3 separate regions of the Homo sapiens genome follow, and all the other regions are linked to region 1. Evidence: fine-mapped expression QTL. A gene starts in region 1. Each other region holds a variant in brackets. All regions are shown on one strand. Distances are between the middles of the regions.

Region 1 (8,142 bases):
AACCCAAGGCAGGTGGATCACAAGGCCAAGAGTTTGAGAGCAGCCTGGCCAGCATGGTGAAACCCCGTCTCTACTAAAAATACAAAAATTAGAAGGGCATGGTGGCGCATCCCTGAAATCCCAGCTACTCAGGAGGCTGAGGCGAAGAATCACTTGAACCTGGGAGGCAGAGGTTGCAGTGAGCCGATATCACACCACTGCACTCCAGCCTGGGGGACAAAGGGAAACTCCATCTCAAAAAAAAAAAAAAAAAAAAAACCTGAGCAGAGATCTCGTGTTATAAACAGGAGTAATCAGGCAAAAGGAAGGGACAAAGGTAGGAGTCAAGAAAGAATCCTACCAAATAGAAAAAAACAAATTGTGCAAAAGACCCCATAATGCAAGACAGGATGGCATATTCAAAGAATGATAGAAGGCCAATGTAGCGGAAGCACAGATTGTGAAGTTGGAAGTGGAATAAGAAGAGTTTGGCCTTTACCAAGAGATATGAGTTTAGCAGGGTTGTGGCTAGGTCAGATTTTCATTTCTGAAAGATCCCTATGGCCAGTGTGGAGAGTGGATTGGAAGTATACAAATCAGTTAGGAGTAATCTAGGCAAGGGATGGCAGCAACATGAACTAGAATGATGGTGGAGGGGATAGAGAAGTGGCCAGATTTGACATATTTAGGAGACAGAACCAACAGGGCTTGGTGACTGATTAGATATAGAGGTGAAAGAGAGGAGTCAAAAATGATGCCCAGGCTTTCGGTTTCAACAACAGAGGGTACAACAGTTGTACCTCAGTGTCCATTGGAGACTGGTTTCAGGACCTCCCATAGATACCAAACACAGATGCTTAAGTCCCTGACATGAAATGGCACTGTTATATACCCTAGGCACACATCCTCCTGTATCTTTTAAATTATCTCTAGATTATTTATAATACCTAATACAATGTAAATGCTATATAAATAATTATTTACTTGTAATGTTTATGGAATAATGGCAAGAAAAAAAAAGTCTGTACATTTTTACAAGGACGCAATTTTTTTTTAATATTCTCTTTTTTGTTTTTTGAGACAGGGCCTTGCTGTTACCCAGGCTGAAGTGCAGTGGTGTGATCACAGCTCACTGTAGCCTCAAATTCTTAGGGCTCAAGCAGTCCTCCCACCTCAGTATCCCGAGGAGCTGGGATCACAGGCACATGCCACCATGCCCAGCTAATTTTTTAAATTTTTTTGTAGAGATGAGGTCTCCCTATGTTGCCCAGGCTGGTCTCAAATTCCTGGCCTCAAGCTTTTTAATATTTTCAATCCAAGGTTAATTGAATATACAGATGTGAAACCTACAGATACAGAGGGCCAAATGTGCCCTTCACCGAGACAGAGAAGACAGGAGGCAGTGGCTTTGGGAGGGGAATAGCAAAAGAAAATAATTAGCTCAGTTTGGGCAGTTGACAAGGTTAAGCAGCCTGGGAGATATCCTAGTTGGCTAGTGGCAGTTAGATACCCCAGATTTTAAACTAGAAGTATACACATTCAGAAGTTATCCGCATACAGATGGTAACTGAAACAATGGAAAATGGATGAGATCACCCAAGGAGAATGTGAACAGGAAAGAAAATGAGAAAAGTCAGATAAGAAAAATCAAGTGAAAGTGATGTCGCTAGAAAGCTGAGTGAGTTTCCGGGAAGATGTCATCAACAGTTTTGAAGACCACAGGGTTTAGATAAGTTTTAAATATCCATCTCATTTATCAATTGAGAAGTCGCTGTCAATCTTAGAGCTATCTTAATGTAGTAGCATGAGTAGAAACATATTGTAATCAGTTGAAAAGCACATGAAAGATGAAAATTAGAAACAAGGACAGCTTATTATTTTTATAAGTTTGGCTGTGAGTGAAAGAAGAAAGGTAAAATACTAGAAGAAAAAGGTAACAATGAAAAGAATTTAACTTGTTTCCATGTGGATGACAGAAATCTGACATTTTCACATAGTGACTGAAAACTGATGAGGACGTTATCTAATAAACATTTCAGAGGACATGGGCAATAAAATGTAGGTTCACTGCTAAAGCAACCCTGATAAACTCTTTTTCCACAGGATCATTATACATTGCTAATAAGAATGCAAAATTAGTACAATCACCACTATGGTGGTCACTTGGCATCATCTAGCAAAATGTTAAACGTGCATATCATTTGACCTGACAATTTTATATGTAGAAATGTATCCCACAGACATACTTGGGCAAATTATACGTACAAGATTATTCATTTACAGCACTGTTTGAACCCGAAAATGACTAGAAATAAACCGAATATCCATCAAGAGACTACTTAAGTTATGGTACATCCACACAAACTAAGTAACTGGGGGTGGGGACACGGGAGGGGGGGCGCGATGCTTTCTGTGTACTGATACGAAAATCTCCTGGACACATTAAACAAAATCTAAAAGTGGAGAAAAGTGTGAATATTACTGTCTTTAAAAAAAGAGAAAATCCCATTTATATTTGCTTAAATATGCATAAGGAAACTGTGGAGGCTGGGCTTGGAGGTTCACACCTGCAATCCCAGCACTTTCGGAGGCCGAGGCAGGTGAATCACCTGAGGTCAGGAGTTTGAGATCAGCCTGGCCAACGTGGAGAAACCATCTCTACTAAAAATACTAAAATTAGCTGGGCACGGTGGTGTACGCCTGTAATCTCAGCTACTCGGGAGGCTGAGGCAGGAGAACTGCTTGAACCTGGGAGATGGAGGTTACAGTGAGCCGAGATTGCGCCACCACACTCAAGCCTGGGCAACAGAGCAAGACCATCAAAAAAAAAAAAAGAAACTGTGGAGTGATAAGAACCTCTTATAACTGTTATAACTGTAGTTACCCACTGTGGAGAGTTCAAACTGGGCAGATGGTGGGTAAGAAGGAGACGTGACACTTTAACTTGTTTTTTTTGAGACAAGGTCTCACTTTGTTCTCAGCTCATAGCAGTGTCAACTTCCCAGGCTCAAGCGATCCTCCAGCCTCAGCCCCACAAGTAGCTGGGACTATAGGTGAGCAAGACCACGCCCAGCTAATTTTTCTATTTCTTATAGAGAGGGGTCTCCCATGTTGCCCAGGCTGCTCTCGAACTCCTGAGCTCAAGTAATCCACCCGCCTCAGACTCCCAAAATGCTGGGATAACAGGCGTGAGCCACTGCACCAGCCACCCCACTTTAACATTTTTAAATTTTCTGGCTTGTGAGCTATGAGAATATATTACCCAGCCAAAAATTATGCTTTAAAAATCTTTTTTTTCGAATTTTTCTTCTACTGAGATAGTAGTTAAAAAAGAACAAGGAATATAATGATGCTAATAAATTTCTACAACACAAGATATAAATGAGACAGAAGTTTAAACAGCTTTAAAAGTTTAAGCTTTTGGCTGGGCACATTGGCTCATGCTTGTAATCCCAGCACTTTGGGAGGCCGAGACAGGCAGATGGTTTGACCTCAGGAGTTTGAGACCAGCCTGGGCAACATGGCCAGACCCCATCTCTTAAAAAAAAAAAAAAAAAATTAAGCTTTTGCTTCAATTTTTTCCATCTGATTTATCAGAAGTACCTGAGGGAATAGAGAGAGGAGATGTAGGGGGTGGCCAAGGAATTGAGAGCTATAAGAAAATAAGGTTTGAATTAGCAGATATGGAGAATGGAAAAGGCGGCTACGAAAATACACTAGACTCAACTAAGAATTTTTTTTTTTTTTTTTTGAGACAGTCTAACTCTGTCACTCAGGCTGTGGTGTAGTGGTGCGATCTCAGCTCACTGCAAACTCCGCCTCCTGGGCTCAAGCGATCGTCCGGCCTCAGCCTCCCGAGTAGCTGGGATTACAGGCGCACGCCATCACACTAGGCTAATTTTTGTATTTTTAGTAGATACAGGATTTCCCCATGTTTGTCAGGTTGGTCTCAAGCGATCTGCACATCTCGGCCTCCCAAAGTGCTGACGGGAGCCACCGCGCTCGGCCACTACTAAGAATTCCATATGCGCAAACAAACAGGTATTATACATTGGCCCAGTGCAGCAGAATACATATCATCTGAGAACTGTGACATTGTGAGAAGAGGAAGTTAAAAGTCATCCTTTAAGACAATTTACTTTGACTTACAAACAGTATGAAGAAATGTCAGACTAAACCGAGTCCCCCCCGCCACCCCCACCCCCCGATATTCTCTGTCCCGGAATATTTCCAGGACCTTCCACACTGCCTGACACAGGCTGACACTCAACAATTGAGCTATTCGTTAAGTCGACTGTGGCTTTAAGGAAAATTTTTAAAGGGTGCCCTTTGCTTCAAATTCAAAACGTAATTTATCTTACGATTCTGCACGCTACTTCACCACAGGAAACGAGGATCAGATCTAACGGAACGAGAAAGTGCAGAGAGCAGCAGTGAACGTAACCTGGAACATTAACACTATGTTCCCTGCACCCTCCGCCTCTCCCTACCCCAGTTTCGTTCCCGGCCTGGTAAGTGTGGGAACAAGGCTGGGGACTGTGCAGCCGGCGCATGGGAAGGCCCCAAATCCTCAATCCAATCAGTTCCCAACGCTTTCCTGCTTAAATGGACCGCCACGGCGTGTGTTTTGAGCGTTCACCTACCCTCATCCGCGTCGTACATATTGCCAAACGGTTCTCGAGCTCCTAACTCTTGAAATCAAAAGACAAAAACCGCCCAGAAGCCAGCAGCGCCAGGAGCTAAAGACGAAGTAACTTCCGTCTCCGACGTTCCCAGAATACCACGCGTCTCACACCAAAGGCCGCCCACAGGGACGCCAAAGTTAGGATCTGCGCCTGCGCAAATTGTAGGTCAAGCTTGGGCCGGGGTTAGGGTTGCACACGCGTAAATTGTGGGCCGCCGCTGCCGGGCTGATTGAGAGGACAGCTCCCGCAATCTGCGGTCGTATCCGTTCCGTCAATGTTTTATTTCTGCTTGTTTTTCAATGTTGTTGCACAAATAACGACACCTGAAAACAAAACCAGGTATACTTATTATTAAAAAGTGTTCGTCCTGTGAATCCGCAACATTGGGATGCTCAATTTATTTGCCTTTATAAGGACCAAAACACGAAGCTATTTTTTATTTTTATTTATTTATTATTTTTTGAAATGGAGTCTCGCTCTGTCGCCCAGGCTGGAGTGCAGTGGAGCGATCTCGGCTCACTGCAACCTCCGTCTCCCGGGTTCAAGCGATTCTCCTGCCTCGGCCTCCCAAATAGCTGGGATTACAGGCAAGGGTCACCACGCCCGGGTAATTTTTGTATTTTTAGTAGAGACGGGGTTTCACCACGTTGGCCAGGCTGGTCTCGAACTGCTGACCTCAGGTGATCCACCCGCCTCGGCCTCCCAAAGTGCTGGGATTACAGGCGTGAGCCACGCGCCCGGCCGGAAGCTCCTTTCTGTTTTTGTTTTGTTTTGTTTTTTTGAGACAGGCTCGCTCTGTCGCCCAGGCTGGAGTGCAGTGGCGCGATCTCGGCTCACTGCAACCTCCGCCTCCCGCGTTCAAGCCATTCTCCTGCCTCAGCCTCCCGAGTAGCTGGGACTACAGGCGCCCGCCACCACGCCTGGCTAATTTTTTGTATTTTTAGCAGAGATGGGGGTTTCACCGTGTAAGCCAGGATGGTCTCGATCTCCTGACCTCATGATCCGCCCGCCTCGGCCTCCCAAATTGCTGGGATTACAGGCGTGAGCCACCGCGCCCGACCCCGGAAGCTCCTTTTTAAGTGTGATTTATTAAGGGCGGCTTGTGCTAGCAGTGAGGCGTTAAGCCTGAAAGTGAAAAAACCCAAAACACTCACTGCTCTTTTCTGCCCACCTAGCTCAATCCTCCAGTGCCTTTGCCATAGCTTTAAGTAGGTTCTCAGTCTCAGAGCTTAAATCGCGAGAACTGACGGGATTAGACGCAAAACCAACCAGGACAGCTCCCAAGTACCCACGCGCTTTCGTCTCGGGTCAAATGCGCGCCTCGGACCCTAGTGCGCGTGCGCGCTGGTGGCTCCGCCCCTTTGGAGCTACTTCCTCATGCTGCCCGCTCGCCTACCGTTCAGGCTGCTGAGCCTTTTCCTTCGTGGATCCGCTCCCACGGCAGCGCGCCATGGCCTCCGGGAGCCGCTCCTGGAGAGGAGGTGCGCTGCCGCCTCCTCCTTCCAGCACTCATCGAGTCTGGGACGCGAGCTTCCTTATGACCCCGTGGACACGGAGGGCTTTGGAGAAGGTGGTGACATGCAGGAGCGTTTTCTGTTCCCGGAGTACATCCTGGATCCGGAGCCGCAACCCACCCGCGAAAAGCAGCTGCAGGAGCTCCAGCAACAGCAGGAGGAGGAGGAGCGACAGAGGCAGCAGCGGCGGGAGGAGCGGCGACAGCAAAACCTACGGGCCAGGTCCCGGGAGCACCCGGTCGTGGGGCACCCGGACCCGGCATTGCCGCCCAGCGGCGTGAACTGCTCGGGCTGTGGGGCAGAGCTGCACTGCCAGGACGCCGGAGTGCCCGGCTACCTGCCCCGAGAGAAGTTCCTCCGCACGGCGGAGGCAGACGGCGGGCTGGCACGGACCGTGTGCCAGCGCTGCTGGCTGCTGTCGCACCACCGGCGCGCTCTACGCCTGCAGGTGAGCCGCGAGCAGTACCTGGAGCTGGTGAGCGCCGCGTTGCGGCGGCCCGGCCCCTCCCTGGTGCTCTACATGGTGGACCTGCTGGACCTGCCCGACGCCCTGCTGCCCGACTTGCCCGCGCTGGTGGGCCCCAAGCAGCTGATCGTGCTGGGAAACAAAGTGGACCTCCTGCCCCAGGATGCTCCTGGCTACCGGCAGAGGCTGCGGGAGCGACTGTGGGAGGACTGTGCCCGCGCCGGGCTCCTGCTGGCCCCTGGCCACCAAGGGCCACAGCGCCCCGTCAAGGACGAGCCACAGGACGGGGAGAATCCGAATCCGCCGAACTGGTCCCGCACAGTGGTCAGGGACGTGCGGCTGATCAGCGCCAAGACCGGCTATGGAGTGGAAGAGTTGATCTCTGCCCTTCAGCGCTCCTGGCGCTACCGTGGGGACGTCTACTTAGTGGGCGCCACCAACGCCGGCAAATCCACTCTCTTTAACACGCTCCTGGAGTCCGATTACTGCACTGCCAAGGGCTCCGAGGCCATCGACAGAGCCACCATCTCCCCTTGGCCAGGTGAGTTTTAGGAGGCTCGCCCTCTTCGTTTCCTGGCAAGGTGGACGTCTGGTCCTGGCCGAGGCACCGAGTACATCCTCCCTTAATGTCCACTGCGGGCTGCCTGTACCCTTCCCTTTACAAATTCTCTCCCCACTCTGGTCACACCTCTCTTCTGTGTCAGCTTACTGCTAGGGAAAATTGAGGATGTGTTGTAGTAATTTTCAATGGAAGTGTTTATGGAGCACGTCTCTGTTCCCAGTCACTAAGCACTGGAGATAGACCAGGGAACAAAGCAAAGTTCCTGTTCTGGAGATTTGCTTTGTAACTTCTTTGTATATTGTTCCAGAAAGTGTGCGTCCTTTTTACTGTCTGAACCTAATGAACTTTGTGTTTTGTTTGTTTGTTTTGTTTTGGAGACAGAGTCTCACTCTGTCGCCCAGGCTGGAGTGCAGTGGCGTGATCTCGGCTCACTGCAACCTCCGCCTCCCGGGTTCAAGTGATTCTCCTGCCTCAGCCTCCCTAGTAGCTGGGATTCGAGGCATGCGCCACCACACCAAGCTAATTTTTGTGTTTGTTTTGTTTTGTTTTTTGAGACGGAGTCTTGTCTTGCTCTGTTGCCCAGGCTAGAGTGCAGTGGCTCACTGTAACCTCCGCCTCCCGGGTTCCAGTGATTCTCCTCCCTCAGCCTCCTGAGTAGCTGGGATTACAGGCGCACGCCACTATGCCCAGCTAATTTTTATATTTTTAGTAGAGACGGGGTTTCACTATGTTGGTCAGGCTGGTCTCAAACCCCTGACCTCGTGATCCGCCCGCCTCAGCATCCCAAAGTGCTGGGATTACAGGTGTGAGCCACCGCGCTTGGCCTAATTTTTGTATTTTCAGTAGAGATGGGGTTTCACCTTGTTGGCCAGGCTGGTCTGGAACTCTTGGCCTCCCAAAGCGCTGGGATTACAGGCAAGCACCACCATGCCCAGC
Region 2 (8,142 bases), 580 kb before region 1:
AGCACTAAATGCCCACAAGAGAAAGCAGGAAAGATCTAAAATCAACACCCTAACATCACAATTAAAAGAACTAGAGAAGCAAGAGGAAACAAATTCAAAAGCTAGCAGAAGGCAAGAAATAACTAAGATCAGAGCAGAACTGAAGGAGATAAAGACACAAAAAACCCTTCAAAAAATCAGTGAATCCGGGAGGAGGAGCCAAGATGGCCGAATAGGAACAGCTCCGGTCTACAGCTCCCAGCGTGAGCGACGCAGAAGACAGGTGATTTCTGCATTTCCATCTGAGGTACCGGGTTCATCTCACTAGGGAGTGCCAGACAGTGGGCGCAGGCCAGTGTGTGTGCGCACCGTGCGCGAGCCGAAGCAGGGCGAGGCATTGCCTCACCTGGGAAGCGCAAGGGGTCAGGGAGTTCCCTTTCCGAGTCAAAGAAAGGGGTGACAGATGCACCTGGAAAATCGGGTCACTCCCACCCGAATATTGCGCTTTTCAGACCGGCTTAAGAAATGGCGCACCACGAGACTATATCCCACACCTGGCTCAGAGGGTCCTACGCCCACGGAATCTCACTGATTGCTAGCACAGCAGTCTGAGATCAAACTGCAAGGCGGCAACGAGGCTGGGGGAGGGGCGCCCGCCATTGCCCAGGCTTGCTTAGGTAAACAAAGCAGCCAGGAAGCTCGAACTGGGTGGAGCCCACCACAGCTCAAGGAGGCCTGCCTGCCTCTGTAGGCTCCACCTCTGGGGGCAGGGCACAGACAAACAAAAAGACAGCAGTAACCTCTGCAGACTTACGTGTCCCTGTCTGACAGCTTTGAAGAGAGCAGTGGTTCTCCCAGCACGCAGCTGGAGATCTGAGAACGGGCAGACTGCCTCCTCAAGTGGGTCCCTGACCCCTGACCCCCGAGCAGCCTAACTGGGAGGCACCCCCCAGCAGGGGCACACTGACACCTCACACGGCAGGGTATTCCAACAGACCTGCAGCTGAGGGTCCTGTCTGTTAGAAGGAAAACTAACAACCAGAAAGGACATCTACACCGAAAACCCATCTGTACATCACCATCATCAAAGAACAAAAGTAGATAAAACCACAAAGATGGGGAAAAAACAGAACAGAAAAACTGGAAACTCTAAAACGCAGAGCACCTCTCCTCCTCCAAAGGAACGCAGTTCCTCACCAGCAACAGAACAAAGCTGGATGGAGAATGATTTTGACGAGCTGAAAGAAGAAGGCTTCAGACGATCAAATTACTCTGAGCTACGGGAGGACATTCAAACCAAAGGCAAAGAAGTTGAAAACTTTGAAAAAAATTTAGAAGAATGTATAACTAGAATAACCAATACAGAGAAGTGCTTAAAGGAGCTGATGGAGCTGAAAACCAAGGCTCGAGAACTACGTGAAGAATGCAGAAGCCTCAGGAGCCGATGCGATCAACTGGAAGAAAGAGTATCAGCAATGGAAGATGAAATGAATGAAATGAAGCGAGAAGGGAAGTTTAGAGAAAAAAGAATAAAAAGAAATGAGCAAAGCCTCCAAGAAATATGGGACTATGTGAAAAGACCAAATCTACGTCTGATTGGTATACCTGAAAGTGATGTGGAGAATGGAACCAAGTTGGAAAACACTCTGCAGGATATTATCCAGGAGAACTTCCCCAATCTAGCAAGGCAGGCCAACGTTCAGATTCAGGAAATACAGAGAATGCCACAAAGATACTCCTCGAGAAGAGCAACTCCAAGACACATAATTGTCAGATTCACCAAAGTTGAAATGAAGGAAAAAATGTTAAGGGCAGCCAGAGAGAAAGGTCGGGTTACCCTCAAAGGAAAGCCCATCAGACTAACAGCGGATCTCTCGGCAGAAACCCTACAAGCCAGAAGAGAGTGGGGGCCAATATTCAACATTCTTAAAGAAAAGAATTTTCAACCCAGAATTTCATATCCAGCCAAACTAAGCTTCATAAGTGAAGGAGAAATAAAATACTTTATAGACAAGCAAATGCTGAGAGATTTTGTCACCACCATGCCTGCCCTAAAAGAGCTCCTGAAGGAAGCGCTAAACATGGAAAGGAACAACCGGTACCAGCTGCTGCAAAATCATGCCAAAATGTAAAGACCATCGAGACTAGGAAGAAACTGCATCAACTAATGAGCAAAATCACCAGCTAACATCATAATGACAGGATCAAATTCACACATAACAATATTAACTTTAAATATAAATGGACTAAATTCTGCAATTAAAAGACACAGACTGGCAAGTTGGATAAAGAGTCAAGACCCATCAGTGTGCTGTATTCAGGAAACCCATCTCATGTGCAGAGACACAAATAGGCTCAAAATAAAAGGATGGAGGAAGATCTACCAAGCCAATGGAAAACAAAAAAAGGCAGGGGTTGCAATCCTAGTCTCTGATAAAACAGACTTTAAACCGACAAAGATCAAAAGAGACAAAGAAGGCCATTACATAATGGTAAAGGGATCAATTCAACAAGAGGAGCTAACTATCCTAAATATTTATGCACCCAATACAGGAGCACCCAGATTCATAAAGCAAGTCCTCAGTGACCTACAAAGAGACTTAGACTCCCACACATTAATAATGGGAGACTTTAACACCCCACTGTCAACATTAGACAGATCAACGAGACAGAAAGTCAACAAGGATACCCAGGAATTGAACTCAGCTCTGCACCAAGCAGACCTAATAGACATCTACAGAACTCTCCACCCCAAATCAACAGAATATACATTTTTTTCAGCACCACACCACACCTATTCCAAAATTGACCACATAGTTGGAAGTAAAGCTCTCCTCAGCAAATGTAAAAGAACAGAAATTATAACAAACTATCTCTCAGACCACAGTGCAATCAAACCAGAACTCAGGATTAAGAATCTCACTCAAAGCCGCTCAACTACATGGAAACTGAACAACCTGCTCCTGAATGACTACTGGGTACATAACGAAATGAAGGCAGAAATAAAGATGTTCTTTGAAACCAACGAGAACAAAGACACCACATACCAGAATCTCTGGGACGCATTCAAAGCAGTGTGTAGAGGGAAATTTATAGCACTAAATGCCTACAAGAGAAAGCAGGAAAGATCCAAAATTGACACCCTAACATCACAATTAAAAGAACTAGAAAAGCAAGAGCAAACACATTCAAAAGCTAGCAGAAGGCAAGAAATAACTAAAATCAGAGCAGAACTGAAGGAAATAGAGACACAAAAAACCCTTCAAAAAATCAATGAATCCAGGAGCTGGTTTTTTGAAAGGATCAACAAAATTGAT[A/G]GACCGCTAGCAAGACTAATAAAGAAAAAAAGAGAAGAGAATCACATAGACACAATAAAAAATGATAAAGGGGATATCACCACCGATCCCACAGAAATACAAACTACCATCAGAGAATACTACAAACACCTCTACACAAATAAACTAGAAAATCTAGAAGAAATGGATACATTCCTCGACACATACACTCTCCCAAGACTAAAACAGGAAGAAGTTGAATCTCTGAATAGACCAATAACAGGCTCTGAAATTGTGGCAATAATCAATAGTTTACCAACCAAAAAGAGTCCAGGACCAGATGGATTCACAGCCGAATTCTACCAGAGGTACAAGGAGGAACTGGTACCATTCCTTCTGAAACTATTCCAATCAATAGAAAAAGAGGGAATCCTCCCTAACTCATTTTATGAGGCCAGCATCATTCTGATACCAAAGCCGGGCAGAGACACAACCAAAAAAGAGAATTTTAGACCAATATCCTTGATGAACATTGATGCAAAAATCCTCAATAAAATACTGGCAAACCGAATCCAGCAGCACATCAAAAAGCTTATCCACCATGATCAAGTGGGCTTCATCCCTGTGATGCAAGGCTGGTTCAATATACGCAAATCAATAAATGTAATCCAGCATATAAACAGAGCCAAAGACAAAAACCACATGATTATCTCAATAGATGCAGAAAAAGCCTTTGACAAAATTCAACAACCCTTCATGCTAAAAACTCTCAATAAATTAGGTATTGATGGGACATATCTCAAAATAATAAGAACTATCTATGACAAACCCACAGCCAATATCATACTGAATGGGCAAAAACTGGAAGCATTCCCTTTGAAAACTGGCACAAGACAGGGATGCCCTCTCTCACCACTCCTATTCAACATAGTGTTGGAAGTTCTGGCCAGGGCAATCAGGCAGGAGAAGGAAATAAAGGGTATTCAATTAGGAAAAGAGGAAGTCAAATTGTCGCTGTTTGCAGACAACATGATTGTTTATCTAGAAAACCCCATTGTCTCAGCCCAAAATCTCCTTAAGCTGATAAGCAACTCCAGCAAAGTCTCAGGATACAAAATCAATGTACAAAAATCACAAGCATTCTTATACACCAACAACAGACAAACAGAGAGCCAAATCATGGGTGAACTCCCATTCACAATTGCTTCAAAGAGAATAAAATACCTAGGAATCCAACTTACAAGGGATGTGAAGGACCTCTTCAAGGAGAACTGCAAACCACTGCTCAAGGAAATAAAAGAGGACACAAACAAATGGAAGAACATTCCATGCTCATGGGTAGGAAGAATCAATATCGTGAAAATGGCCATACTGCCCAAGGTAATTTACAGATTCAATGCCATCCCCATCAAGCTACCAATGAATTTCTTCACAGAATTGGAAAAAACTACTTTAAAGTTCATATGGAACCAAAAAAGAGCCCGCATTGCCAAGTCAATCCTAAGCCAAAAGAACAAAGCTGGAGGCATCATGCTACCTGACTTCAAACTATACTACAAGGCTACAGTAACCAAAACAGCATGGTACTGGTACCAAAACAGAGATATAGATCAATGGAACAGAACAGAGCCCTCAGAAATAATGCCGCATATCTACAACTATCTGATCTTTGACAAACCTGAGAAAAACAAGCAATGGGGAAAGGATTCCCTATTTAATAAATGGTGCTGGGAAAACTGGCTAGCCATATGTAGAAAGCTGAAACTGGATCCCTTCCTTACACCTTATACAAAAATCAATTCAAGATGGATTAAAGATTTAAACGTTAAACCTAAAACCATAAAAACCCTACAAGAAAACCTAGGCATTACCATTCAGGACATAGGCGTGGGCAAGGACTTCATGTCCAAAACACCAAAAGCAATGGCAACAAAAGCCAAAATTGACAAATGGGATCTAATTAAACTAAAGAGCTTCTGCACAGCAAAAGAAACTACCATCAGAGTGAACAGGCAACCTACAACATGGGAGAAAATTTTCGCAACCTACTCATCTGACAAAGGGCTAATATCCAGAATCTACAATGAACTCAAACAAATTTACAAGAAAAAACAAACAACCCCATCAGAAAGTGGGCAAAGGACATGAACAGACACTTCTCAAAAGAAGACATTTATGCAGCCAAAAAACACATGAAGAAATGCTCATCATCACTGGCCATCAGAGAAATGCAAATCAAAACCACTATGAGATATCATCTCACACCAGTTAGAATGGCAATCATTAAAAAGTCAGGAAACAACAGGTGCTGGAGAGGATGCGGAGAAATAGGAACACTTTTACACTGTTGGTGGGACTGTAAACTAGTTCAACCATTGTGGAAGTCAGTGTGGCGATTCCTCAGGGATCTAGGACTAGAAATACCATTTGACCCAGCCATCCCATTACTGGGTATATACCCAAATGAGTATAAATCATGCTGCTATAAAGACACATGCACACGTATGTTTATTGCGGCACTATTCACAATAGCAAAGACTTGGAACCAACCCAAATGTCCAACAATGATAGACTGGATTAAGAAAATGTGGCACATATACACCATGGAATACTATGCAGCCATAAAAAATGATGAGTTCATATCCTTTGTAGGGACATGGATGAAATTGGAAACCATCATTCTCAGTAAACTATCGCAAGAACAAAAAACCAAACACCACATATTCTCACTCATGGGTGGGAATTGAACAATGAGGTTACATGGACACAGGAAGGGGAATATCACACTCTGGGGACTGTGGTGGGGTCAGGGGAGGGGGGAGGGATAGCATTGGGAGATATACCTAATGCTAGATGACACATTAGTGGGTGCAGCGCACCAGCATGGCACATGTATACATATGTAACTAACCTGCACAATGTGCACATGTACCCTAAAACTTAGAGTATAATAAAAAAAAAAAAAAAAAAAAAGATCATGAAAAAAAAAAAAAAAAGGAAAAGTCTCAAGAAAAAAAAAAAAAAATCAGTGAATCCAGGAGCTGGTTTTTAGAAAGGATCAATAAAACTGATAGACTGCTAGCAAGACTAATAAAGAAGAAAAGAGAGAAGCATCAAATAGACGCAATAAAAAATGATAAAGGGGATATCACCACCGATCCCACAGAAATACAAACTACTATCAGAGAATACTATAAACAACTCTACTCAAATAAACTAGAAAATCTAGAAGAAACGGATAAATTCCTGGACACATACACTCCCAAGACTAAACCAGGAAGAAGTTGAATCTCTTAATAGACCAATAACAGGCTCTGAAATTGAGGCAATAATTAATAGCCTGCCAACCAAAAAAAGTCCAGGACCAGAAGAATTCACAGCCGAATTCTACCAGAGGTAGAAAGAGAAGCTGGTACCAATCCGTCCAAAACTATTCCAATCAACAGAAAAAGAGGGAATCCTCCCTAACTCATTGTATGAGGCCAGCATCATCCTGATACCAAAGCCTAGCAGAGACAGAACAAAAAAAGAGAATTTTAGCCAATATCTCTGATGAACATTGATGCAAAAATCCTCAGTAAAATACTGGCAAACTGAATCCAGCAGCACATCAAAAATTTTATCCACCACGATCAAGAAGGCTTCATCCCTGGGATGCAAGGCTGCTTCAACATATGCAAATCAATAAACGTAAAACATCACATAAACAGAACCAATGACAAAAACCACATGATTATCTCAATAGATGCAGAAAAGGCCTTCGAAAAAATTCAACAACGCTTCATGCTAAAAACTCTCAGTAAACTAGATATTGATGGAATGTATCTCAACATAATAAGAGCTATTTATGGCAAACCCACAGACAATATCATACTGAATGGGCAAAAACTGGAAGCATTCCCTTTGAAAACCAGAACAAGATAAGTAATCCCTCTCTCACCGCTTGTATTCAACACAGTGTTGGAAGTTTAGGCCAGGGCAATCAGGCAGGAGAAAGAAATAAAGGGTATTCAATTAAGAAATGAGGAAGTCAAATTGTCCCTATTTGCAGAGGACATGATTGTATATTTAGAAAACCCCATCATCTCAGCCCAAATTCTCCTTAAGCTGTTAAGCAACTTCAACAAAATCTCAGGATATATTATCAATGTGCAAAAATCACAAGCATTCTTATACACCAATAACAGACAAACAGAGAGCCAAATCATGAGTGAACTCCCATTCACAATTGCTTCAAAGAGAATAAAATACCTAGGAATCCAACTTACAAGGGATGTGAAAGATCTCTTCAAGAAGAACTAAAAACCACTGCTTAACGAAATAAAAGAGGACACAAACAAATGGAAGAATATTCCATTCTCATGGATAGGAAGAATCAATATCATGAAAATGGCCATACTGCTCAAAGTAATTTATAGATTCAGTGCCATCCCCATCAAGCTACCAATGACCCAATGACTTTCTTCACAGAATTGGAAAAAAACTGATTTATAGTTCATATGGAGCCAAAAAGGAGCCTGCATTGCCAAGACAATCCTAAGCAAAAAGAACAAAGCTGGACGCATCACACTACCTGACTTCAAACTATACTACAAGGCTACAGTAACCAAAACAGCATGGTACTTGTACCAAAACAGAGATATAAACCAATGGAACAGAACAGAGTCCTCAGAAATAATGCCACACATTTACAACCATCTGATTTTTGACAAACCTGACAAAAACAAGAAATGGGGAAAGGATGCCCTATTTAATAAATGATGCTGGAAAAACTGGCTAGCCATATGTAGAAAGCTGAAACTGGATCAATTCATTACACCATATACAAAAATTAATTCAAGATGGATTAAAGACTTACATGTTAGACCTAAAACCGTAAAACCCTAGA
Region 3 (8,142 bases), 25 kb after region 1:
TGCTGACCAAGAAGTCATTATGCGATACATGACTGTACTTCTTTATCCATTAATCTGAATATAACGACATCTTTTGAATCAGTAGTCACTTACACTATGACAGGGTACAAGAATTAGTGGGCTCTTCTGGCCAGGAACGGGAGGAGAAATTAAGGGCAAAGTACCAACTCCTCACTTCCACAGATCACAGAGGTGGTTAGGGGTTGCTAGAAAACAATGAAGCAAGTTTATTCTAGATTGTTTACCTGGCTCTGCAGCACTGTGGTGTTGAGCATGTCACCTCTTTTGTATTCATGACACCCAAAAGAAGTAAAATAAATTCCATCAAAGTACTTTTTGACTTTTATGTGATATTAGGTTCAAAGTTTTATTTTAAAAAGTTACACGTAATCCCTCTGCTTTTCCCCCCTCTAATTAAACTAAAATAACAACATCTTCTTCAAAGTTACTAAGACAAATTAAAGTTGTAATATGTTTTGTATCTTTAATCACCATAAATGCCAAGCTGTGCCGATCACTAAGTCTTTACTGTATAGTTCCCCAGAGTCTAGTTTATTTAACTTGAGACACTCACTTCCCATAACAACCAAGGAGAAGCGGAGTAGAGATGCAATCTTGTGTGCCTGTGTCTCTAGTGTTCAGACTCTTCTTGCACAATGGACATAGGCTGGTTTCCTGCAGCTGACTAACATGGAGGAGCTCCAGCTGTGTCAGCCATGACAGAGTTGTTATTGCTTCACTGAGTAAGCACCCAGCGCGCAAGCTGAGGCGGGCTGTTTCATAGACGGGCTCGGATCATTTACCCTGGCTTCCCTCCCACTTGGCTCTGTGTCGTGGAGCATTAGAATCATTTCCATTCTTTCTCAGCTGTTCCATTTTCTTTTGGCCACTTTCCTCCTCCCAGGGGGATTGTTTTCTCTCAATTGTCAAAGAGTAATGCTTAAACATTAAAAACAAGATTTCAGACTCGTGAATCAAATCGATGACACCTCTGCCTGCTCTGAATGTCTCTCTGTCATATTATCTGCCCCCATTAAGACCTTGTCGTGAGAGGGGAATGGTTCAAGATAGGTTTTTTTGTTTTTTGTTTTGTTGTTGTTGTTTTATTTTTTCAGAGACAGGGTCTCACTCGGCTGCCCAGGCTGGAGTGTAGTGGTGTAATCACAGCTCAACGCAGCCTTGACCTCCTGGGCTCAAGTGATACTCCCGCCTCAGCCACCCGAGTAGCTGGAACTATAGGCAGGTGCCACCACACCCAGCTAAATTTTTTATTTTTGTAGAGACAGGGTCTCACTTTGTTGCCCAGGCTGGTCTCAAACTCCTAGCTTCACCAATCCTCCCACCTCAGCCTCCCAAAGTGCTGGGATTACAGGTGTGAGCCACCACACCAGGCCAAGATTACTATTTTAACATCATATTGCAGTGATGCCTCACCTTTTCCCTTCATGTCATGGAGTTTCATGATCTGAATACTCCTAAGTGTATCTGGATCATCCTCAAAACACCCACTGCTTGGATTCCCAGGTTCCTGCTTTCAAAAGCTGCTTTTGGCTTCGCAAATAATTCTCCGAATTTACCTACTGTGTAGTCAATCTAGTGGGAGAATTTATTTGGTCTTAATATTCTTATTGGTAGATGCTGTAATAGTATGATGCTTAATCACAGACACCGTCAGTACCTCTACCTGGTAGCTGTGGTAAATTGGAAAAAACTGAGGTCACACATACACAAAACAAGCAGACACGTTAGAGAATACATCATCATGTGTCAGGTGATATTGGAAGTGAAATATATGGAAGTGAAAGACTGCCAAGATCCTTTCTAACCTTTCAGTAAGCCCTAGAAAATAGCAGGCATGGCTGGGCGTGGTGGCTCACCCCGGTAATCCCAGCATTTTGGGAGGCCGAGGCAGGTGGATCACGAGGTCAGGAGTTTGAGACCAGCCTGGCCAACATAGTGAAACCCCGTCTCAACTAAAAATACAAAGGTGGCACATGCCTGTAATCCTAGCTACTCGGGAGGCTGAGGCAGGAGAATTGCTTGAACCTGGGAGGCAGAAGTTGCAGCGAGCCGAGATCGTGCCACTGCACACCAGCCCCAGGCGACAGCGTGAGACTCCGTCTCAGAAAAAAAGAAGAAAAGAAAAAGAAAATAGCAGACATTCAATGAATGGATCAATAGAGTGAGAGGATTTTTTTGTTTGCTTGGTTTTTGCCTTCCCTGGAAAATAGGGAAAGAGCAAACTTAAATTTGCTTAGTAGCATTTACACTAACCTCTTATAGAGTTTCTTCCTTTCCTGCATAAAGCCAGTACCTCATGGTTGTTGTATTTCAGACTTCAGATTACTCGTAGTTGCTATAATCATATGATAGCCCATATATCTTTTTACTCCTTTATACTTATATAATAATAATAATAGCTATCACTTATATAGTAATAAAATGAGCCAGGCACTCTTTCAAGTGCTTTACATATATTAACTGAATCCTTACAGCAACCCCATGCAGAAATACTATTATTACCCACATTTACAGATGAGGAAACTGAGGCACAAATAACTTACCCAGGATCTAACTAATAAGTGATGGAGCTGTGATTCAAACAAACCCAGGCACTCTATCTCCAGAACTCATGTGGGGCTTCGTTGTTTTATTTTGAAAAAGGTTCTCACTCTGTCACCCAGGCTAGAGTGCAGTGACACAGTCTCAGCTCACTATGGCACCCACCTCCCAGGCTCAAGCAATCCTTCCATGTCAGCCACCCAAGTAGCTGGACTACAGGCACACGCCACCGCACTCAACTAATTTTTTAATTTTTTGTAGAAACAAGGTCTCACTATATTTCCCAGGCTGGTCTCAAACCCCTGTGCTCAAGCGATCTTCCTGAGTTGGCCTCCCAAAGTGCTAGGACTGCAGGTGTGAGCCACCGTGTGCCCAGCCTGGGGTTTTTAATTATAACAGACTTTGTTTTCATGTACAGTTCTATGGATTTTATCACACGTATATGTTTGTTTAATGACCACCATAATCACAATATAGAACAGTTCTGGCCGGGCACAGTGGCCTGTAATCCCAGCACTTTGGGAGGCTGAGGCAGGTGGATCATGAGGTCAGGAGTTCAAGACCAGCCTGGCTAAGATGGTGAAACCACGTCTCTACTAAAAATACAAAAATTAACCAGGCATAGTGGCGGGTACCTGTAATCCCAGCTACTC[A/G]TGAGGCTGAGGCAGGGAGAATCCCTTGAACGCGGGAGGCAGAGGTTGCAGTGAGCCAAGATCACAACACTGCACTCCAGCCTGGGCAACAGAGTGAGACTCCATCTCAAAAAAAAGAAAAAAAAGAACAGTTCCATCAATATCCATGTCTTCAACCACTGCACAGTAATTCCTCTATATACTAAAACCCATCAACAAATCTAAAGGTGAGAATTTTTCAACCTTAGGAAGGAAACCTACTTTGAAGACCTTCAAAGATAATAGCACAATTCTCTCGGGAATTCTGGACAACTACCACTTAATCTCCTTCTGGCTTCCTTTGAATTCTACCATATATAATTTCTCCCTGAGCATTTGTCTCAGAGCAGTGTGTGTGTGTGTGTGTGTGTGTGTGTGTGTGTGTAATGTGCTGTGCCCTTGCTGTCTTACTTCAGCACTGCTGCCCAAACCAAAACAGGTATCCCAGTTTGATTTCCATGCTCTCTCACCACCTCAGATGGCTTTAAATGGACTGTGCTTCCCTGGCTGGCTGGGAATCTTTCACATTGCTGATGAGCTTGCCAAGTACCACGGACAGATCACAGCATGCATGGAAATCCTTACCCACAATTCTGATTAAGAAAATAGTAAATTCGATATACAGAAAATTTGGGAAGCAAACATCCAAAAATTACACTAAACTATCATAGAAAAGAGACTGTAATTTTTCATCCTAATCCTACTCATGAGATTAGAACCGGTGATCCCCATTTACTTGCAAATCAAAAAGCCTCAAAAACCAATTTGATAATTTGGCCCTGAACTTGTTTAAATGCCCCTGCTTTTCCTACTTGTGTAGCTCTCAATCCAGTTGCCTGTTTCTTGCTACATCTTACTGACTTTCCCTAAACAGGAGTTACTGGGTTGTCCAATTAAAAGCTTTCTATTATTGCAAGTTTTGCTCAGCATTTAGCATTTGACCTAAATAGATTTATCTTTTTTTTCCCTGTCTTCGACTTTAAACTCTGTGGTGAGGCCGGGCACGGTGGCTCACGTCTGTAATCCCAGCATTTTGGGAGGCCAAGGCAGACAGATCACCTGAGGTTGGGAGTTTGAGACCAGCCTCACCAATGTGGAGAAACCCCATCTCTATTAAAAATACAAAATTAGTCAGGCATGGTGGCGGGCGCCTGTAATCCCAGCTTACTCGGGAGACTGAGGCAGGAGAATCGCTTGAACCCAGGAGGCGGAGGTTGCAGTGAGCTGAGATCGCGCCATTGCACTCCCGCCTGGGCAACAAGAGCGAATCTCTGTCTTTTAAAAAAAAAAAAAAAAAAAAAAAACTATGGTGAAATACTCAACAGGAAGGCAAATTAAAGAAATGGGGCTGCTTTCCTTTAAAATACCAGATAAAAGATGTATTTTACTGAAACACTAGCTTTTTCATTAGATAAATAAAGCTTTATGTAAAGCTAATTCTGAGAAATGTGTTAAAATTTTTCAGCATGGGAACGTGGACAAGAGACTGTTCAACAAAGGAGAACAATGTGTAACTGTCCCATGTACCCACTAACTCCCCCGTTGGGCATGGAGTAAGTCACTTCTAGGTACAGTTGCTCATTTGTTCGTTGAAAATGCTTCTTTTTTATTAACTAGGTTTGAGGACATGATTAGGTTTATATCCACATCTATTGCTGAATAACAAACCACCCTGAAACTTGGTGACTTGAACCAAGCGATTATTTGCTCCCATTCTTTAGTTTGGCAACTTAATCTAGGCTCCGCTCAATGGTACTTCTGCTCTGTGGCGACATGCATTTGCACACAGCACACAGCCAGGCTGACCTCACGCACAGGAGTTTCAGCTGAGATGGTTGTAACAGCTGAGCAAGTGAGGCATTTTCCATTGATCACTCTCTCTTCCAAGGGTCTCATCCTCAAGTAGGCTAGTTCAAGCTTGTTCACAAGGTGACAGTGTTCACAAAAAGCCTGAGAGTAGAGCTTGCAAAGCCTCTGGAGGCCGAAGCTCAAAGTCACACAGTGCCACTTCTGCTGCATTTATTGGTCAAAGCAAGTCACAATGGCAGCACAGATTCAAACATGTACTGGAATTTGTGGCTATTTTAATCCATCACAAGCTTTTGGCGTTGATCACCCTGAAGAAAATACAAATATAATGTGCTATCTAATTGGCCTATAGAAAGTGAATCCAGGCCGGGCACGGTGGCTCAAGCCTTTAATCCCAGCACTTTGGGAGGCCAAGATGGGTGGATCACGAGGTCAGGAGTTCGAGACCAGCCTGGCCAATATGGTGAAACCCCGCCTCTACTAAAAATACAAAAATTAGCTGGGTGTGGTTGCGTGTGCCTGTAGTCCCAGCTACTCAGGAGGCTGAGGCAGAAGACTCGCTTGAACCTGGAACCTGGGAAGTGGAGGTTGCAGTGAGCCGGGATTGCACCACTGCACTCCAGCCTGGGCGACAGAGTGAGACTCCATCTCAAAAAAAAAAAAAAAAATCCAATATAAATCTATCAAATAAGAAATACTGAGTCCAGGCACAGTGGCTCATGCCTGTAATCCCAGCACTTCGGGAGGCAGAGGCAGGTGGATCACCTAAGGTCAGGAGTTCGAGACCAGCCTGACCAACATGGTGAAACCCCATCTCTACTAAAAATATAAAAAGTAGCTGGGCATGGTAGTGCATGCCTGTAATCCCAGCTACTCAGGAGGATGAGGCAGGACAATCGCTTGAACCTGGGAGGTAGAGGTTGTGTTGAGGTAAGATTGCGCCACTGCACTCCAGCCTGGGCAACAAGATGAAACTCCGTCTTAAAAAAAATAAAGAAAGAAAGAAAAGAAAAGAAAAAAAGAGAAATATTATCCTAATTTAAATTTACCTCAGAAGTCTGATACACAGAGCTGCTATATGACGAGCAAAGAAGTGGGGAGAGATTTTCAGCTTTTGATTTTATCATAAATCCTTTAGGAATATTTTGTTTTTACTTATTAATGTGTACATATTACTTGGGTAAATTTCAATGAAAAAAAAAATCCATGCAGACTCAATTCTGGGCTATCTCTCCCTCTAGCTCCAGTACTTATACTAGAAGAAAGCTATCCTAGGAAGTCCTCTACCTGGGAAGTCTCTGTAATGGGGAAGGTAATGAGAACACAGAAATGAAGGGCCTTCATGTCTCAAAATAGTATCCTACTGCTCTCCAAGAAAGAAAAATGGACAAGGGTTTGAGGCAGAGTTCAAGCTGAGGGTCCTGAAGCCATACAAACTCGTTTCTTTTCCTGGCTCCATAACCAGGGAGAGAGGTGGGGAGGCCGTGTGGCTGGAAGTAATTTCAGAACCCCTTTTAGCAGTGGCCATCTGCCAGCATTTTCGCATCTCTATCCCTCCCCTCCCCACACCCGCTTGTCCTGCCAGAGCACACTGGGCCCATACTGAGACAGAAGGGGAGGCAGGGAACAAGGAGAACCATATAGGAGGTCCCTTTGTTCCTAAATCCATCTTCAACTCCATGTTTTACTAGAATCTTATATTGGGGCTGGGTGCAGTGGCTCACGCCTGTAATCCCAGCACTTTGGGAGGCCGAGGTGGGCGGATCACGAGTTCAGGAGATCAAGACCATCCTGGCTAACACGGTGAAACCCCGTCTTTACTAAAAATACAAAAAATTAGCCGGGCGCGGTGGCGGGTGCCTGTAGTCCCAGCTACTTGGGGGGCTGAGGCAGAATGGTGTGAATCCAGGAGGCAGAGCTTGCAGTGAGCCAAGATCGCGCCACTGCACTCCAGCCTGGGTGAAAGAGCGAGACTCCATCTCAAAAAAAAAAAAAAAAAAGAATCTTATATTGGGGTATCTAGAGATGTGATAGTGTTGAAATCCAAAAAGAAACTACTTGAACTGTCCCCATCAGTTAGTGTAAAAACTATCAAGATGAAAAAAACATTGGTCAAAAAGGTGTAAAGCCAATTTTTTTTTTTGAGATGGAGTCTTGCTCTGTCGCCCAGGCTGGAGTGCAGTGGCACAATCTCGGCTCACTGCAACCTCCACTTCGTTCAAGCGATTTTTCTGCCTCAGCCTCCCGAGTAACTGGGACTACAGGCGTGTACCACCATGCCTGGCTAATTTTTGTATTTTTAGTAGAGACGAGGTTTCAGTATGTTGGCCAGGCTGGTCTCTAACTTCTGACCTTAAGTGATCTGCCCACCTCGGCCTCCCAGAGTGCTAGGATTACAGGCATGAGCCACCACACCTGGCCAAAAGGTGATTTTTAAATGCTTTATGAATTAATTTCATCATATATTTACAAGGTTATTAAGTTTGAAGAGGCCACTTACTCTAATGAAAGTGATCAAGCATTCTGGCAAGACTTGAAATCTGGGGATCTGCATAGGTCTCAGGGAATATCTTGAGATTTTCCAGGTTCTGCTACAAGGCACATTGCCCACATAGGTATGAATGTCAGAGGTGTGTGAACCAGAGCAACTTCATCTTAAATAGGAGCTGGGTAAAATGAGGCTGAAACCTACAGTGCTGCATTCCCAGATGGTTAAGACATTCTAAGTCACAGGATGAGACAGGAGGTCAGCACAAATTACAGGTCATAAAGACCTTGCTGATAAAACACGTTGCAGTAAAGGAGCCGGCCAAAATCAACCAAAACCAAAATGGTGATGAGAGCAACCTCTGGTCATCCTCACTGCTACACTCCCACCAGCGCCATGACAGTTTACAAATGCCACAGCAACATCAGGAAGTTACCCTACATGGTCCAAAAAGAGAAGGCATAAATAATCCACCCCTTGTTTGGCATAGGAATAACCATAAAAATGGGGAACCAGTAGCTCTCGGGGCTGCTCTGTCCATGGAGTAGCCATTCTTTTATTCCTTTCCTTTTTTTTTTTTTTTTTTTTTTTTTGAGATAGAGTCTTGCTTTG

Direction of the effects. Positions count from the first base shown, and alleles are read on the strand shown. Sizes are in standard deviations (SD) of each study's normalised expression. Not every link is listed here.
As copies of A replace G in region 2, the expression in monocytes of the gene that starts at base 4,731 in region 1 goes up (large effect, 1.4 SD a copy in BLUEPRINT).

The links.
Region 2: its variant is fine-mapped to the expression of POLR2B in monocytes (BLUEPRINT, PIP 0.95).
Region 3: its variant is fine-mapped to the expression of POLR2B in whole blood (TOPMed, PIP 0.97).

The regions. Positions count from the first base shown.
Region 1 is chr4:56,975,485-56,983,626 of GRCh38, reverse strand. It overlaps POLR2B (RNA polymerase II subunit B), which reads right to left and starts at 4,731. Exons shown (of 25, transcript NM_000938.3): 1 at 4,623-4,731. The coding sequence starts at 4,641. NOA1 (nitric oxide associated 1) reads left to right here and starts at 6,021. Exons shown (of 7, transcript NM_032313.4): 1 at 6,021-7,185. The coding sequence starts at 6,042. RefSeq lists enhancers at 4,358-4,457, 6,279-6,348, 6,729-6,788 and a silencer at 6,449-6,528.
Region 2 is chr4:57,560,394-57,568,535 of GRCh38, reverse strand. No RefSeq gene overlaps it. Among named protein-coding and RNA genes, the nearest start is that of LINC02380, 140 kb to the right of the region's middle. The variant A/G (reference allele first, on the strand shown) is at 3,297.
Region 3 is chr4:56,950,913-56,959,054 of GRCh38, reverse strand. No RefSeq gene overlaps it. Among named protein-coding and RNA genes, the nearest start is that of NOA1, 23 kb to the left of the region's middle. The variant A/G (reference allele first, on the strand shown) is at 3,216.